Homo sapiens: one gene and its partner. The protein of the gene in region 1 interacts with the protein of each later gene in a pairwise test. Each region holds a gene or a part of one and is shown in the gene's direction. Other genes may lie near its edges.

Region 1 (7,537 bases):
CAGTTAGGAGAATGTAGTATTTATGTAAATGTCTGTTCATGAGTGCAGTGTGCCCTCAGAGTCCACTTTCCAGCATTCCTGGCATAGCCCCCTCCACCCTGCCGGGCTCCAGAGGAGGGAGGGAGAGGGAGGCCCCGCCCCCAGCCCCCTCTCCTCCCACTCCTCCCTGCTGGGCAATGAGGAAAACAGGAGTGAGGGAAGAGCTGTGATGTGGCTGGTTGGGGGGGCTCCCGCATCCCAGAAGGGCTGACCTCAGCCTGGGAGGAATGTGCAGGAGGGGAGGGCAGGGGTGGGGCAGGCGGGGGTAGGGCCACAGCCAAAGGCCCAGGGTTCTTGGTAGCCCCTCCCTCAGCACCTCCATCTCAGTTCTGACAGGGCCCTCAGAAGGGAAGGGGAACAGGCAAGGAGGGGAGGAGCTAATCTTTCAAAAAAGGTGGGCCAGGGTTCCCTGGGAATGTGGAGACCAGGCTGGGGTGAGGACATGCCTGCAGACGCTTCCCCAGGAGATGCCCCTGGGGCAGGGCCTTAGAGTGTCTGGGAAGTTAGGCCTCAGGTGATGATCCTATGGCCGCCCACGCCTGCCCCCACTGTGCCTAAGTCCTCTGGGCAGCATGACCTGGTACCTACGTGGCCAGAACAAGGAAGAGTTGTGACGTTGGAGCCACAAGCCCTGATGACTAAAGCAGGTGTGAGTGGGGCGCCCAAGATCCCATCCAGTCCAGGCTGCACTGGGAGGGTTGCCACAACCTTCCTCAGATGGGTGTCCCACCCCAACCACACCACCCGGAGTCCAGGCAGGGGCAAAGGGGCAGGCCCAGCTGGTGGCCAGGGGTGGGGAGGCAGGTGCTGAGATTTGGCACAACAATCCAGGTTTTTCCAGAAGGAAAAGCCAAGGCCGTGGTAGGCCATGCCACTGACAGGCAGCCCCAGAGCAAGGACCCAGGCAGGTCTCTGCCCATGGAAGCTCCCTCAAAAGAGAGAGGTCCAGGGTAGGAGTACAGGCAGGAAAAGGGACCCCAGCTGCCTTGCCTGGTTTGCCCCATTCTGTTGAGACTCAGGCTCAGGCTGCCTGATTCCAGAATCCTCGAGGAGTTCCAGCCCCCAGTGTGACCCACAGGCAGTGACCTTGCTCCTGGAGTGCTGACCTCCATGGGGGCCCCTACCCATGGCCTGGCACACTGGACCTGGGGCTGAGGAACAGAAAGGGGACCATGTGGAATCAGGGACAACTTGACCTCCCATCCCTGGAGACCTCCATTCCTACTCAAGGGAGGGTACACATCTAGAGGACAGAGGACAGGGCACAGCACTCAATGGGGACAGAGACAGTCTAGTCCTTTTGGCTGGGGGTTGACTCCCAGGCTATTGGAAAGATAATGGCGGTGGCGGGGGGGTTTCTGATACCGTTTCCCAGAGTGAACACAGGTGGAGGAAGGTGCGGGGTGATGAAACAGAGACAGGGCCCCTGGGCCTGGAAAAACATAAGGCAGTGAGGGCCTATGGGGGCACAGTGGGAGTGGATGGGAGCCTCTGAGGCACTTGCTGATCCTGGCTGCTTGGGTGGAAAGCTGTAAACAGCCAAAGAATGTTGTCTGCTTGCATGGAGCCAGGAGAGCCTGCCCAGGTCCTCTAAGGCTAGAGGCAGCTACTCCTGGAGTAGGAAAAGGCCACATCCAGGAAGCCCACGAGCCCAGGCAGGGATCTGTCCTTCCACTTGCCCTCCTGAAGGGCCCTGCGGCTCCCACTGGCCCCTGTTATTTACCTGCCAGCTGGCCAGGCCAGGCCAGGTATACCAGGTCCTCAGGCTCAGGAAGGAGGGGCATAGCCCCACTTCCACTTCCAGGGGACTTGGAGATGTGCCCCCCACCTCTGTCCTTGCTTGGCTGGAGGCATCCAGGGCTGGGCAACAGAACTGCAACACTTGAAATGCCCACACTGCCCCATCAGCCTTGGGAGGTGGTAGGAAAATGCCTTTTGCGGGGATGGAAGGATCAAAGCCCATTCTCAAGCCCTGGTATATTCACTCAGGTGGACTTCAGGGCTCCACTCTGCCACTGTCAACATACAGTCCCTCCAGAGAAGTACCCCTCATGTTACAAATGGGGCACGTTCACCAGACTCAGCTTCAGGACAAGACCCCAGGTCATTCCCAACTGAGGCTCCGAGGTGCAGGAGCTCCGTCCTGTCTGTAAAACTCCCTCAGTTTTCGGCTCTGGGTTTGGTGGGGGTTGTTCCTCCCACCTCCAACCTAGAAAGAGAAGCCAGAGGAAGGGAGGTCACATGGTCTGCCCCCCAACCTCTCAGCAGAGATGCAAAGCTACCTGTCCAGGATGGCGGACTCCAGATGGGCCCCGCCCTGTGGTGCAGAAGTGAGATTTGCTGCTCCTCCTGCGTCTGCCCCTCTCCTGCCCTCCTCTCCCTCCCCTATCTGGCTGTCATGGTAGAAGCCACTGCTGGCCAGGCCACTGAAGTACTAAGTGGCCCAAGTGTTGAGGAAGGATGGGGACTGGGTCCTGAGGGCCCATCCGACCTCCAGTTGAGAGCCCCTCCCCTGACCTCCAGCTGCCCGGCCACCCCAGCCGGTCCCTGGGAACTGAGGTGGCAGCTGAGCTCCCCATTATCTTTCCCCACAGCTCCCCACCTGTGGAGGGAGAGGTTGAGATATTGGAGTCCACGGGTGGTGCCCCCACTCAGTGATTCCCTTTGCCTGCTGAGCCCCTGGAGCTGGGGTTTCTTCCTCCCTTGCCTTGGCTGGCCACCTGGCTTCTGGGACCGCCACCTGGGGCACCCTTCTGCTTTAAGGCCCAATATGGGAGGGGTCGTCCCTACCAGCCCCTCCCTTGTGCCCATTCCACTCCCGCCTGGCTGCCGTCTCCAGCTGGTCCCGGCTGCCTGCCCGGTCACCCGATCCGCCCTCTAAACTTTACGGCACGGCGGGCGGTGCGTGGGGCGGTGGCTGGCCTGGTGGGGGCGGGGGCTGCTTCTTAAAGGAGCCGTCAGAGGGTCCCCAGCGGCCCCAGGGTGGGAAGGGGCCAGAGTGGAGAGATGCTGCTGCGGAAGTCCTCGGTGGAGTGTGAGAAGGCAGCCAGTGTTGGCCTGGAAGACCTCTAGAACCTGAGAAGAGGCAGCGGCAAGTGTCAGCGGAGGGAAGGAGGGAGGTGGGGGTCCTGGCCTGGGATGGGGCCAGGAGCTGGGCAGGAGTGTGGGTGGAGGGGCCTGGAACCTGCCTCAGCAGCTGCTCCACTTGCTTAATCCCACCTGGAACCTTGTCCCACTCCCTGGGCTCCTGTGTCCAGCACCTGCCCAGCTGACCCCTGGGAAGGAGGGTGGGCATAGCAGCCAGGTCTTTGCCCCAGCTGAGGGCCAGGGGGAGGTGTCTGGCTCCTAGAGTGAAGGGGCTCAAAGATGGGGAAGAACTCAAGGGGTGAGAGAAGTGAAGGGAGAGGCTCAGAGAGGCTGTGGAGGCGTTGAGAGGGAAGGCCAGCTCAGCGAGGCCAGGAGGCTGGGGTGCAAATGAAGGGCTGCCTCACCTTGCCCCTCTTTGATTCCTCAGGGGTGTGGAGAGAGAGCCCTCAAGCTCAAATGCAGAGGCTGCTTCAGCTGGGTTGGGAGCAGTCCCCAAGTCAGAGGCTGAGGCTTCTGCCCAGGTCTTGGGTCTCCTGGGTAGCACTTCTCCCTCTGAGGAATGGAGTGATTGATGCTGCAGTTGGATTTGCTCACTTGCATGCCCAGAGACATGTCTATTCTTATGGGTGCACACGTTTGCACATGCACAAATGTGCAACACATCTGTGTGCAAAATATGCACATATCACACATATGTACTGCATGGATTGCACAGTGCCACATGTGTGTGCACACCAACCCATATCCACACATGTGCAATATGACACACTATATATTTGCACATAGATGTGCACACACATGCACATACACACTACACACATGCGCACATCACAAGGGGACACTCGGAAACACATTCACAGGCACCCACACCCTTGGCTCCAGCCTCAAAAGTGTCTCTGTGTTTTTCTGCGGGACTGTGGGGACACTGCCACCTCCAGAGGCCTGACCCCCTCCTGTCACTCTCACTCTTTTGACTGGCTTGTTTTGCTCATTGCACTTGGCACCCTCTGCATCCATCTGATTCCTTGTTGGCACTCTGTCCCCTTTCACATGGGGACCTTGTCTATGTCTCCCAGTATCCCTCCTCCCAGGTCTAGGCTGGCATGAAGTGGGTGGCACATTGTGAATTAATGTCTGTGAGTGTGTATACAAGAGAGGAGATTACTGGGAAGGGTGACGTGGTGAGGCGGGCTTGCCAGTGCAGGGTGACCCTGAGGGTGTGCCCAGTGGCGTGGGTGTGTCTGTGATTGTGGCCAGGCGGGGCACCCTCGGAGGGGAGGGTTCGGAAGTGGAATGCGACCCCCCAGCCTCTTTCCCCTAGGGGCTGTAATCTGATCCCTGGGGACTCCCCCCCTAGCCTCCCGCCCTCGCCCTCACTGCTGACTCCTCTTCCAGATCCTGGGGCAGAGTCCAGGGCAGCTCAAGGCTCCTCCACACACACACCCGCTGAACCCTGAGCACCCTGAGCTGCTGAGATGGGGCGGGCCGGGGCTGCCGCCGTGATCCCGGGCCTGGCCCTGCTCTGGGCAGTGGGGCTGGGGAGTGCCGCCCCCAGCCCCCCACGCCTTCGGCTCTCCTTCCAAGGTAGGTGCACCTGGCAGGCGGGAGGGCCCAGCTTGAGGTGGGCAGGAAAGGGTCCCCGTATGGCCAGGGGGCTCTGTGTTGGCTGTTGCCCCATGTGCGTGCCTGTCACCAGACTCTGGTAGGATTAGTGGGCACTCTCAGGCCACCTCCAGTTAACCCTGTCCGGGCCTCAGCCCCCAGCCTCTGCCCACATTCTCTTCGTGCTTTCTCAGGAAGACCCCTCCTGTCCCCACAGCAACAGACCTTGTCTCTGTTCCGTTCAGTACCCCCAACAAGGCGATACTCCTTCAGCAGAGCAACAGGGAAGTCAGAGCCCCCTTCTCATGCCTCCTGTATAGGAGGGTGGCCCCTGGGCAGTGGCAGTGAATAGGCAGTTCTGCTGAGCTCAGGCTGGTGGTGGAGTGGCAGGAAAGGAACTCTCAGCCTGACTTTTGGGAGTTGGGGTTCTGGCCATCCCTGCATGCCAGTCTCCCCCAGGACTCTGGTGTCCATAAGCCTTGCCTCCCAGTGCGCCCGCCTGGAGACACCACCTGTCTGAGCATGCCCAAGTTCAACCTGCCTTCCTCTTCCTGGGGGGATGTACCACCTACCCTGGCAGCTCCACACGTGCACCTGGGTGGGCTTGGGTTTGCGTGTGTAAACTCACACACATGTAAACTCACATGTGTACAGGCCAGGTCCTAATGGCAACCTTGGCCGATAGAGTCACCACCAGGCAGGACCTGGGGGAGGCTTCCAGCATGGCTGGCGAGTCATCAGCAGTGTCCTGCCCTGCAGAGCTCCAGGCCTGGCATGGTCTCCAGACTTTCAGCCTGGAGCGAACCTGCTGCTACCAGGCCTTGCTGGTGGATGAGGAGCGTGGACGCCTGTTTGTGGGTGCCGAGAACCATGTGGCCTCCCTCAACCTGGACAACATCAGCAAGCGGGCCAAGAAGGTGCCAGGGACTCCCAACCCCAGCACTCCCCAGGGAAGGAGCCCTGGGACCCCACTCCAGCCTGGAGAGACCCAGAGGAATGGCTCCCTGAGGTAGAGAATATCCCAAGTTCCTGACCTGTGTCCCCTCTCCCCCAACCTCCCGATAGCTGGCCTGGCCGGCCCCTGTGGAATGGCGAGAGGAGTGCAACTGGGCAGGGAAGGACATTGGTGTGAGTGCCAGCTGCCCGGGCCGGGAGTGGGGAGGGTCAGCCCCTCACCCCAGAGACAGGGCAGGGCTAAAACAGAGGCCTGCCTGTTCTGGCTGGGATGAGGGCAGGGAGGTCGAGGTGGCTGAGGTCTGGGGGTGGTGAGTCAGGGTGGGGGCTCGTGTAATTCTTCTGGGGTGCCTCTGAGTCATGGGAGGCTTTGCAGGCCTGTGCTTCCCCAGACACCCACCCTCGTGAGGCCTGGGCTGGTCAGCAAGGGCCCCCAGGTCCCTGTAGCCCATGTTAGTACTTGCCTGGGCTGATGCCGAAGAGAGGGAGGGGTGAGGATGCCACTGGTGAGCTGGGACCTCTTAAGGCTACGTCCCTGGGGGAAGCCTCACACCTCCAACCCTACTAGACTGAGTGCATGAACTTCGTGAAGTTGCTGCATGCCTACAACCGCACCCATTTGCTGGCCTGTGGCACGGGAGCCTTCCACCCAACCTGTGCCTTTGTGGAAGTGGGCCACCGGGCAGAGGTAAGGCCGGATCTAGGCAGGGAGGGAGGTCAGGAGGGTAAGAAGGGCCTGGTAGTCACAACTTGCCACACCTCCCAGGAGCCCGTCCTCCGGCTGGACCCAGGAAGGATAGAGGATGGCAAGGGGAAGAGTCCTTATGACCCCAGGCATCGGGCTGCCTCCGTGCTGGTGGGTGAGTCCAAGGGCTAAGGCCCCAAGAGAACCCCTTAGAAACTCTAGAACCTCACAAAGTCCCAAGACCCCCAAGAGCTCCAGGGAATCCCCCATAACCTCACTCACTCCCAGAGCTCCCCAGGCCCTCCTGCCCCAAGAGCCCTCCATTTGCCTGAGTGGCCCTTGCTCTGTCTGCAGGGGAGGAGCTATACTCAGGGGTGGCAGCAGACCTCATGGGACGAGACTTTACCATCTTTCGCAGCCTAGGGCAACGTCCAAGTCTCCGAACAGAGCCACACGACTCCCGCTGGCTCAATGGTGAGAGGCTGGTGGGGTTGGTGGGTAGAGGTCGTCACCCTCCCACAGGGCAGGTGCCAAGCAAGGCCCATAAAGTAAGTGAGCAGTGGGTGTGGCCAGGTCTTACCAAATACCCTCCTTAATCAGGCACTGGCGTCACAGAGACAGACAAGACAGGTATGACCGTGACCTCTTTGAGTTCACAGATCACATACATGATAAGATCAAGTCCAATGGCCTTGAGGCCAGAGAGAGACAAGGGAGGAAGGGAAAAGGAGACTGGGTGGCTGGAGGGGGTTGGGTAAAGGAAGCCGCTGTGCTGAGGGGAGTATGAGCTAATTCCCAAGCACAAGACAGCTAGCCAGCAAAATTTAGGGATGAGCATTCCAGGCAGAGGGAGCATTCCAGGCAGAGGGAGCAACTAGTGCAAAGGCCTGGATGCAAGAACAAGCAAAGGAATAGACTTGCAGAGCTAGCAATGAAAAGGGGGCCTGGACTGTCAGGGGCCAGAGTCATTTATTCTAAGAGTCATGGGGGCTGGGCACAATGGCTTGCACCTGTAATCCCAGCACTTTGGGAGGCTGAGGCAGACAGATTGCTTGAAGACAGGAGTTTCATACCAGCCTGGGCTACAAAGCAAGACAAAAAATAAAATAAAATTAGCTGGGGGCAGTGGCATGCACACACCTGTAGTCCTGGCTAGTCAGGAGGCTGAGA
Region 2 (7,322 bases), on another chromosome or scaffold:
CTTTGCTGGGCAGAGGCAGTTGTGCCAAAAGTTGGTCAGTTCCCCTAGGTAGGCCTGGCACTGGCTGGGACCTCCAGCAGGGCTGGGTCTGCTCCTGTGGGGTCATGAGAGCCACACAGCCATGTCTGTGGTATTCTGTATGGGTACACAACCCTGGCCACGTTCCTTGCCTATATTGGTGCTTGCAGCAGGTTCCACCAGAAGGGTTGTTCCTCAACAAGTATCTTTGACTGAGTTCTCAGAATCATCCTCCATCCGTTCCCCCGGTCTCCCCCATACCTGCTCCATGTGACTACAGGTGTACCTTCCAGCTGTGCTGAGGACCTGACTGTGCTCCCAGCATTTCTGCTCTTACTTGCCATAAGGGTGACTTTTTTGGAAGGGCTGTGGTTGCTCTTCACATTTTGGGACAGGAACCCTTGGGTTGCTGGATGCTTCTGCAGAAGGGATGAGAGTATGGAAAAGGGCCCAAGTGAATGCGTTTGGTGCCTTCCAGCAGCCTGAGATTGTGAGAACCACCCCTGTGCACTCTTTAAATGCTTTAAAACGTTTTGTGTATGTGCTGAATTCTTGTAATAAACCCATGGAATAGGCAGGACATGAGTTATTTGGTTGAACTTTCCTTGTCATCAACTAGTTGTCGGTGCCTGAATCCTTGTCTGCATCTAACCTTTTATTTTTTATTTTTGTTTTTTAGAGGTAGGGTCTTGCTCTGTTGTTGCCCAGGCTGGAATTCAAGTGGTGCAATCATGACTCACTGCAGCCTTGAATTCCTGGGCTCAAGCGATGCTCCCACCTCAGCCTCCCGAGTTGCTCAGACTTCAGGTGCCTTCCACCACGCCTGGCTGATTTTTTGTGGGGGGGGATAGGGCCTTGCTATATTGCCCAGGTTGGAGCATCCAGCCTGTTCCTGAATGTTTCCCCTGTTACCCTGACGTAGGTACCACAATGGTCCCCTGTACTGGCCTGAGACACAAGACTAGTTGGCTGGACCTTGGAGAAGTAACTGCATGTCTCTGTTCCTGCCATTGCTGAAAGATCCTGGCTGTGCCATCAGCTTGCCTTGTTACCCTGTTCTTGGCTTCAGTTTCCCCATCTATAAAACGAAGGGGTTGAACTAGCTGATCTCTGTGGTGTCTTCTATTTCGGGCATTACCTCCTCTGGGGAAGAGAAAAACTAAAGAATCTAGTGACCACCTTAGGACATCCTACCCACATTACCAGCTTCAGTAGACAACCTTAATAAGTGGCTCATGGCACCTGATGAGGGAGATCCTTGTGCAGGTAAATGCAGGAGCCCTAAATGAAGCCAGCATTTTATTGCTCTCACAAGTAATGGGGAGAGTAAGGTGAGCTCTTAGTCTTGGAGGTAGATGGTGTTTGTGTTGTGAAGATGAAACTGAGGCCAGGCATGGTGGCTCATACCTGTAATTCCACCACTTTGGGGAGGCCAGGGCAGAAGGATTCTCTGAGCCCAGGAGTTCAAAACCAGCCCAGGCAACATAGTGAGACCTCATCGCTACAAAAATGGAAAAGCTAGCCAGGCATTGTGGTGCACACCTATAGTCCCAGATACTCTGGAGGCTGAGGCAGGAAGATCTCTTGAGCCTAAGAGTTTGATGCTGCAGTGAGCTATGATAGCGCCACTGCACTCTAGCCTGGGAGACAGACCGAGACTCCATTTCCAAAAAAAAAAAAAAAAAAATGAGGCCGGGCATGGTGGCTCGCACTTATAATGCCAGTACTTTGGGAGGCCAAGGCGGGCGGATCACTTGAGGTCAGGGATTCCTGACCTCAAGGAACTCCTTGAGGTGAGGAGACCAGCCTGGCCAACGTGGTGAAACCCTGTCTCTCCAAAAAAAAAAAAAAGAGCTGGGCGTGGTGGCAGACGCCTGTAATTCCAGCTACTTGGGAGGCTGAGGCAGGAGAATCATTTGAACCCAGAGGACAGGGTTGCAGTGAGCAGAGTTTGTGCCACTGCACTCCAGCCTGGGCAACAGAGCGAGACTCCATAAAAAAAAAAAAAAGAAATGAAAAATAAATAAAAATAAGAAACTGAGATTCGGAAAGATGAAGTGGCTTCCTCAGGCCAAGCATGAAGCTAGGAAGCAAACTCCAGTGTAACTAAGGCCTGTTCTCTTTGCCTTTTTTTTTTTTTTGAGACAGGGTCTTGCTCTCCTGCCCAGGATGGAGTGCAATGGTATGATCTCGGCTCACTGCAACCTCCATCTCTCCAGGGTTCAGGGGATTCTCGTGCCTCAGCCTGCCAAGTAGCTGGGACTACAGGTGTGCGCCACCACACCCAGCTAACTTTGTATCTTTAGTAGAGACGGGGTTTCATCATGTTGGCCAGGCTGGTCTCAAGCTCCTGACCGCAAGTGATCCACCCTCCTTGGCCTCCCAAAGTGCTGGGATTACAGGTGTGAGCCACCATGCCCGGCCCTCTCTGCCATTTATGGTATCGTTCTGCCATGCTGGATCGTATCTGGTCTCTGGCTGTGAGTTTCTTCTCTGCAGGGACTGAGGTGTGTAGAGATGGGGGAGGTCTCCAGTGCTTAGACCTGACTCTAGGGACATTGGGAGATGGAAATGTTTTGAGGCTTGGTTCCTGTCTCTAGGGCTTTCTGTAGTCAAGGTGAGGGGTACCTCAGACTGCTGGGAACTATAAGGCGAGGGGTCCTAACGGCCACTGTGGGGCTTCAGAGGAAGGAAAGGGTAGTTGAGGACTCCGGAAAGACCTGAAGGCTGGATACCTTTAGTTAAGGAGTGAGGAAGGGGTGAGCCGAGGGGGCAGTGCAGGCAGCCTTGTGGACGCTTGTCAGGGCCCTGGAGTGGGTGGGCTGGGCGGGCTTGATGGAAGCAGGTGTTGGGCGGCTTTGGAACCTCTTGTTCCTCCCTACATGTGGCTGGTCAGCCTGCGGAGCCCACGCTTCCCCTGCTCCTGGTTTGCCAGTTTCCCCTTTTTCTGCCCTCCTCACTCTGGTGTGGCTGTCATCCTAAACAAGTGTCATACTGAGTGGATGGATGGCAGCACTTACCCACCCATGACGCTGATGAGGCTGCCCTGTGCCGCTCCCCCTGCCCTCACAAACAGCAGAGTCAGGGTGCCTGGTCTCAGGAGCCCTGCTCCTCCGTGAACTCAGCTGTGTGCCGTTGACAAATCACCAAGGCTTTCTGGGTCTCAGTCTCCCTGTCTGTACAAGGGGCTGGGCTTTAAGATGTCATCTGCTGGGGTGGCTGGAATCTAGTAGGAACCAAGGCGGGTGTTTGGGAATCACACTTGCTGTGATTTAGCCTCCCGGACTGCTCCCCACAGAGCATCTGTGCTCAGGCAGACGGGCCCACCAGCTCATCCGTGACTGCCTTGACCACCTGAGAGGTGGCCAGGGACAGGATGGGAGCTGTGGGGTAGCCTTTTGGACTCTATAGAACCTGAAAGATGGAACCCTGAGGAAAAGGGTCATCGGACCCAGAGGGAATCCTGGCTGGAAACGAGTCTTGAGCCAGGATAAGGAAACAGCCCCTACACTCACCCCACCCTACCCCAAGCGGAAACTCTGTGCTGAGAACTTGCTATTTAAGAGGCCTCTGGGGAGGTCTGGCCAGAAAGGAGCCATTTGAGGGAGGGTTTAAAATTAGCCTGGGTGAAATGTGTGGCCCCTGGGGAGAACTGAAGCAGAGGTTTCCGTGGGTCTGCTCTGGTCTGGGTCTTTGACCCAAATCATGTCCTGCTTTCCTGGGGAGGAAGGGGAGGAGAGAAGGGAGTGGTACCGATCTAGGTCCCTCCATCAGGACGCTGGTGGCTGCACTCTTGGCCCATCCTCTGGGGTGAGGTGTTGGAGGCAGACCCTGGGCTACCCAGAGGGCTTGGTGCTCGGGTCCTGTCGTCCTTTCCCAGCACCCAAAGCACCCATCACCTCTGCCAGGCTGGGCACGTAGTAGGAAGACTTGGGTTTTGGGTTTTTTTTTTTTGAGACGGAGTTTTGCTCTTGTTGCTCAGGCTGGAGTGCAGTGGGCCAGGCTGGGCATGTAGTAGGAAGACTTGGGTTTTGGGTTTTTTTTTTGAGACGGAGTTTTGCTCTTGTTGCCCAGGCTGGAGTGCAGTGGTGTGATCTCAGCTCACTGCAACCTCTGCCTCCCGATTCAAGTGATTCTCCTACCTCAGCATCCCTTGTAGCTGGGATTATAGGCATGCGCCACCACACCCAGCTAATTTTGTATTTTTTAGTAGAGACGGGGTTTCTCCATGTTGGTCAGGCTGGTCTTGAACTCCCAACCTCAAGTGATCCACCCACCTCGGCCTCTCAAAGTGCTGGGATTACAGGTGTAAGCCACCACGCCCAGCCTTTTTTTTCTTTTTTTCTGAGATGGAGTCTCACTCTGTCGCCCATGCTGGAGTGCAGTGGTGCGATCTTGGCTCACCACAACCTCTGCCTCCTGGGTTCTAGTGATTCTCTTGCCTCAGCCTCCGAAGTAGCTGGGACTGCAGGGATGGGCCACCACACCTGGCTAATTTTTTGTATTTTTAGTAGAGATGGGGTTTTACCACGTCGGCCAGGCTGGTCTCAAACTCTTGACCTCAAGTGATCCACCCGCCTCAGCCTTCCAAAGTGCTGGGGTTACAGGCATGAGCCACTGCACCTGGCCGAGGCCTGGGTTTTGAGTTCCAGGTCTGCTGCCTTTAAAGAACAAGCCATGTGACCTTGGACAAGTCACTTCTGCTTGGGGATTCACACGCACACCTCAAGGCCCTTACATCAAAGGGCAGAGAGGCCTGCTGGGCTCAGGTCAGGAGCTCGGTTTCACCCATCCTGGATCCTTGGCTATCCAGACCCCCAGATGCTGCCAACAACAAAGCAGGATTCGAGTGGTGTCTCCGTGGGACATGAGCTGCCAGGGCTGTGAGGTGTGAGGTGCCATCACCCCAACCCCGGGCACAGAGGCTGGTATAGTGGTGCCTCTACTGAGGGGAAGACGTGTCCCAAGGGAGAAGATGCGTCCCAAGCGGCCCGAGATTCTGCTGAATGGGCTTGGCAAAAGCTCACGTGAGGTTTGTCTTCACCATGGCTGAGAGTCAAAGTTTAAGAGACAAAGTTTGTCTTCACCGTGGCTGAGAGTCATTCTTGCGTGGGTGGGAGTGGTGACACCAGTAACCAGCAGCTATCCTGGCTGATTTCCTTTGACATTCTTGGCTCTGTTGAGTTCTCTGGGTGCATTGGGTGTAGTTTTACCTAACATTGCTCCAGCTTCCTGAGACAAGCCACTGATAAAAGCCATCGTCTCAGAAAGGCTGTTGTCTGGGGTCAGCGGGCCATCACTAGAGAGCGGAGCAAGTTCTTTGGTACCTCTCAAGAAGGGGATGTGGCCCACTGTAGGGCAACTTAATGCTTTCAAGAATGGCCGCGTGATGGGGTGAGGCATGTGAACTTCTAAAATCTGCAGCGGTGAGTTCAGAAGACCTGTGCTTGGCTTCGCAGGAGGAGATGTGGCCCAGAGCAGGAGTCAAGCGTGTAGGGACGCTCTGCTTGTTCACATTTTTCATTATTCAGGAAGCCACGGTTTCAAAAAATGTTTTGAATGGATCTAAGCTATGGAAAGTCTCCCCTTCCCCATCACAATTTTTGGCTGATCAGGGCTTGCTAGTTTAGCATCCGGTGCCAGCAGCGTTTAAATAGCAGCAGTGGCTACAGTCACAGGATGGACACCTAGTGTTTAGATCTGGCTTGTAACCATGTTGGGGGCAATGCTCAAAATTCACAGCATCAGCCGGGCACGGTGGCTCAATCCTGTCATCTCAGCACTTTGGGAGGCCGAGGTGGGCGGATCACTTGCGGTCAGGAGTTCGAGACCAGCGTGACCAATGTGGTGAAACCCCATCTCTACTAAAAATGCAAAGAATTAGCTGGGCATGGTGGTGCATGCATGTAATCCCAGCTACATGGGAGGCTGAGGCAGGAGAATCGCTTGAACCGGGGAGGCAGAGGTTGCAGTGAGCCGAGATGGCGCCACTGCACTCCAGTCCGGGTGACAGCAAAACTCCATCTCAAAAAAAAAAAAACTCACAGCATCAAATGCTTCACCTGAAGCTGGCAAGATCTTAGCGTGTTCTTCAAAACTCAGCATAATGGTTTTGACTGTTTACCCATTACCCTGTTCAGTCAACATTTAGTACCATCACCATGCTAAGAGCAGGCAGAGAGGCAGGAGTATAAGGTGTTTCTTGACATTGAAGGTCCCACATCTCGTGTAGGAGCAGGAGATGGATGAGAAAGTGCCGGGCCCTCTGTTGAAATCACTGCAGGGGATAGTGGGCATGGGACTCTGTTTCCTTTACATCTTTGCTCCTCCCCTCGACCAGACTGGAGGCTCTCTACCAGGAGGCCATGGGTATCATCTAGAAAACAGATACTTTTTTGTCTGAGGGGCCAGTGGTGCAATGGATTAAAAAAATAGATACATTTTTACATGTACATTTTTGGGGGGTCAGGCACTGCAGCTTTCTTCAGATTTTTAGAGGAGGCTTTGGTTTGAAAAGGCATACCGATTAGCATGGCGTGGTGGTGTACCCCAGTAATCCCAGCTACTCAGGAGGCTGAGGCAGGAGAATCTCTTGAACCCAGGAGGTGGAGGTTGCAGTGAGCTGAGATCACGCCACTGCAGTTTAGCCTGGGCAACAGAGTAAGACTCTGTCTCAAAAAAAAAAAAGAAAAAAAAAAAGGCATGCTGGGCTGGGTTTGTACCCTTATCAAACAGGGCTTTCTTTTTGCCTCTGTTCACCAGCAGACTCAGTCTGTGTGCAGAGGCATCCGGCAGACGCAGCACGATGCCTCTGGGATGTACCCAGAGAAAGGAAAGGGCTTTGAGAAATTGAGTGCTGTGAAACAATGTTAATTTGCCTTGGGTATCCAAGGAGGCCCAGGAAAGGCTGAATTCCTCTAAGCTCTAGAAGGATTCCAGTTGCCTGCCTGAAGGAAGCGCTGTTGTCATCCCTGTCCGTCTTGGGCAGCCTGGCCCTGATCACTGGTCTCTGTCTCCAGGTCCGGACACTGTTTGTCAGCGGCCTCCCTGTGGACATTAAACCCAGAGAACTCTACTTGCTCTTCCGGCCGTTCAAGGTGAGTCAGGACCCAGCCGCCCCCTGGGTAGAGCCTGGGACCCTGGAGAAGCAGCGGGAGTGAATCTCGGGTCGGGCAGGGCAGCAGGATGATGCGGGAAGGCGTGGCAGAAGCTGTGGGGGCAGGTCCAGCCCGTGTCCTGGTTCTGCGAATTCACATGCTGCCTTCTGAGCCTCTGTTTCCTCGCCAGTTAAATGGAGACAGTAA

The links.
Region 2: the proteins of SEMA3B (region 1) and RBPMS2 interact in binary tests that used the Homo sapiens proteins (3 or more experiments, as listed by UniProt).

What each region holds. Positions count from the first base shown.
Region 1 is NC_000003.12:50,264,640-50,272,176, forward strand, and holds the start of SEMA3B (semaphorin-3B isoform 1 precursor), read left to right. Parts: upstream 1-4,507; 5' UTR 4,508-4,601; coding exon 4,602-4,710; intron 4,711-5,487; coding exon 5,488-5,645; intron 5,646-5,793; coding exon 5,794-5,856; intron 5,857-6,250; coding exon 6,251-6,370; intron 6,371-6,448; coding exon 6,449-6,542; intron 6,543-6,721; coding exon 6,722-6,841; intron 6,842-7,537. UniProt on the Homo sapiens protein: Inhibits axonal extension by providing local signals to specify territories inaccessible for growing axons.
Region 2 is NC_000015.10:64,751,354-64,758,675, reverse strand, and holds part of RBPMS2 (RNA-binding protein with multiple splicing 2), read left to right. Parts: intron 1-7,037; coding exon 7,038-7,115; intron 7,116-7,322.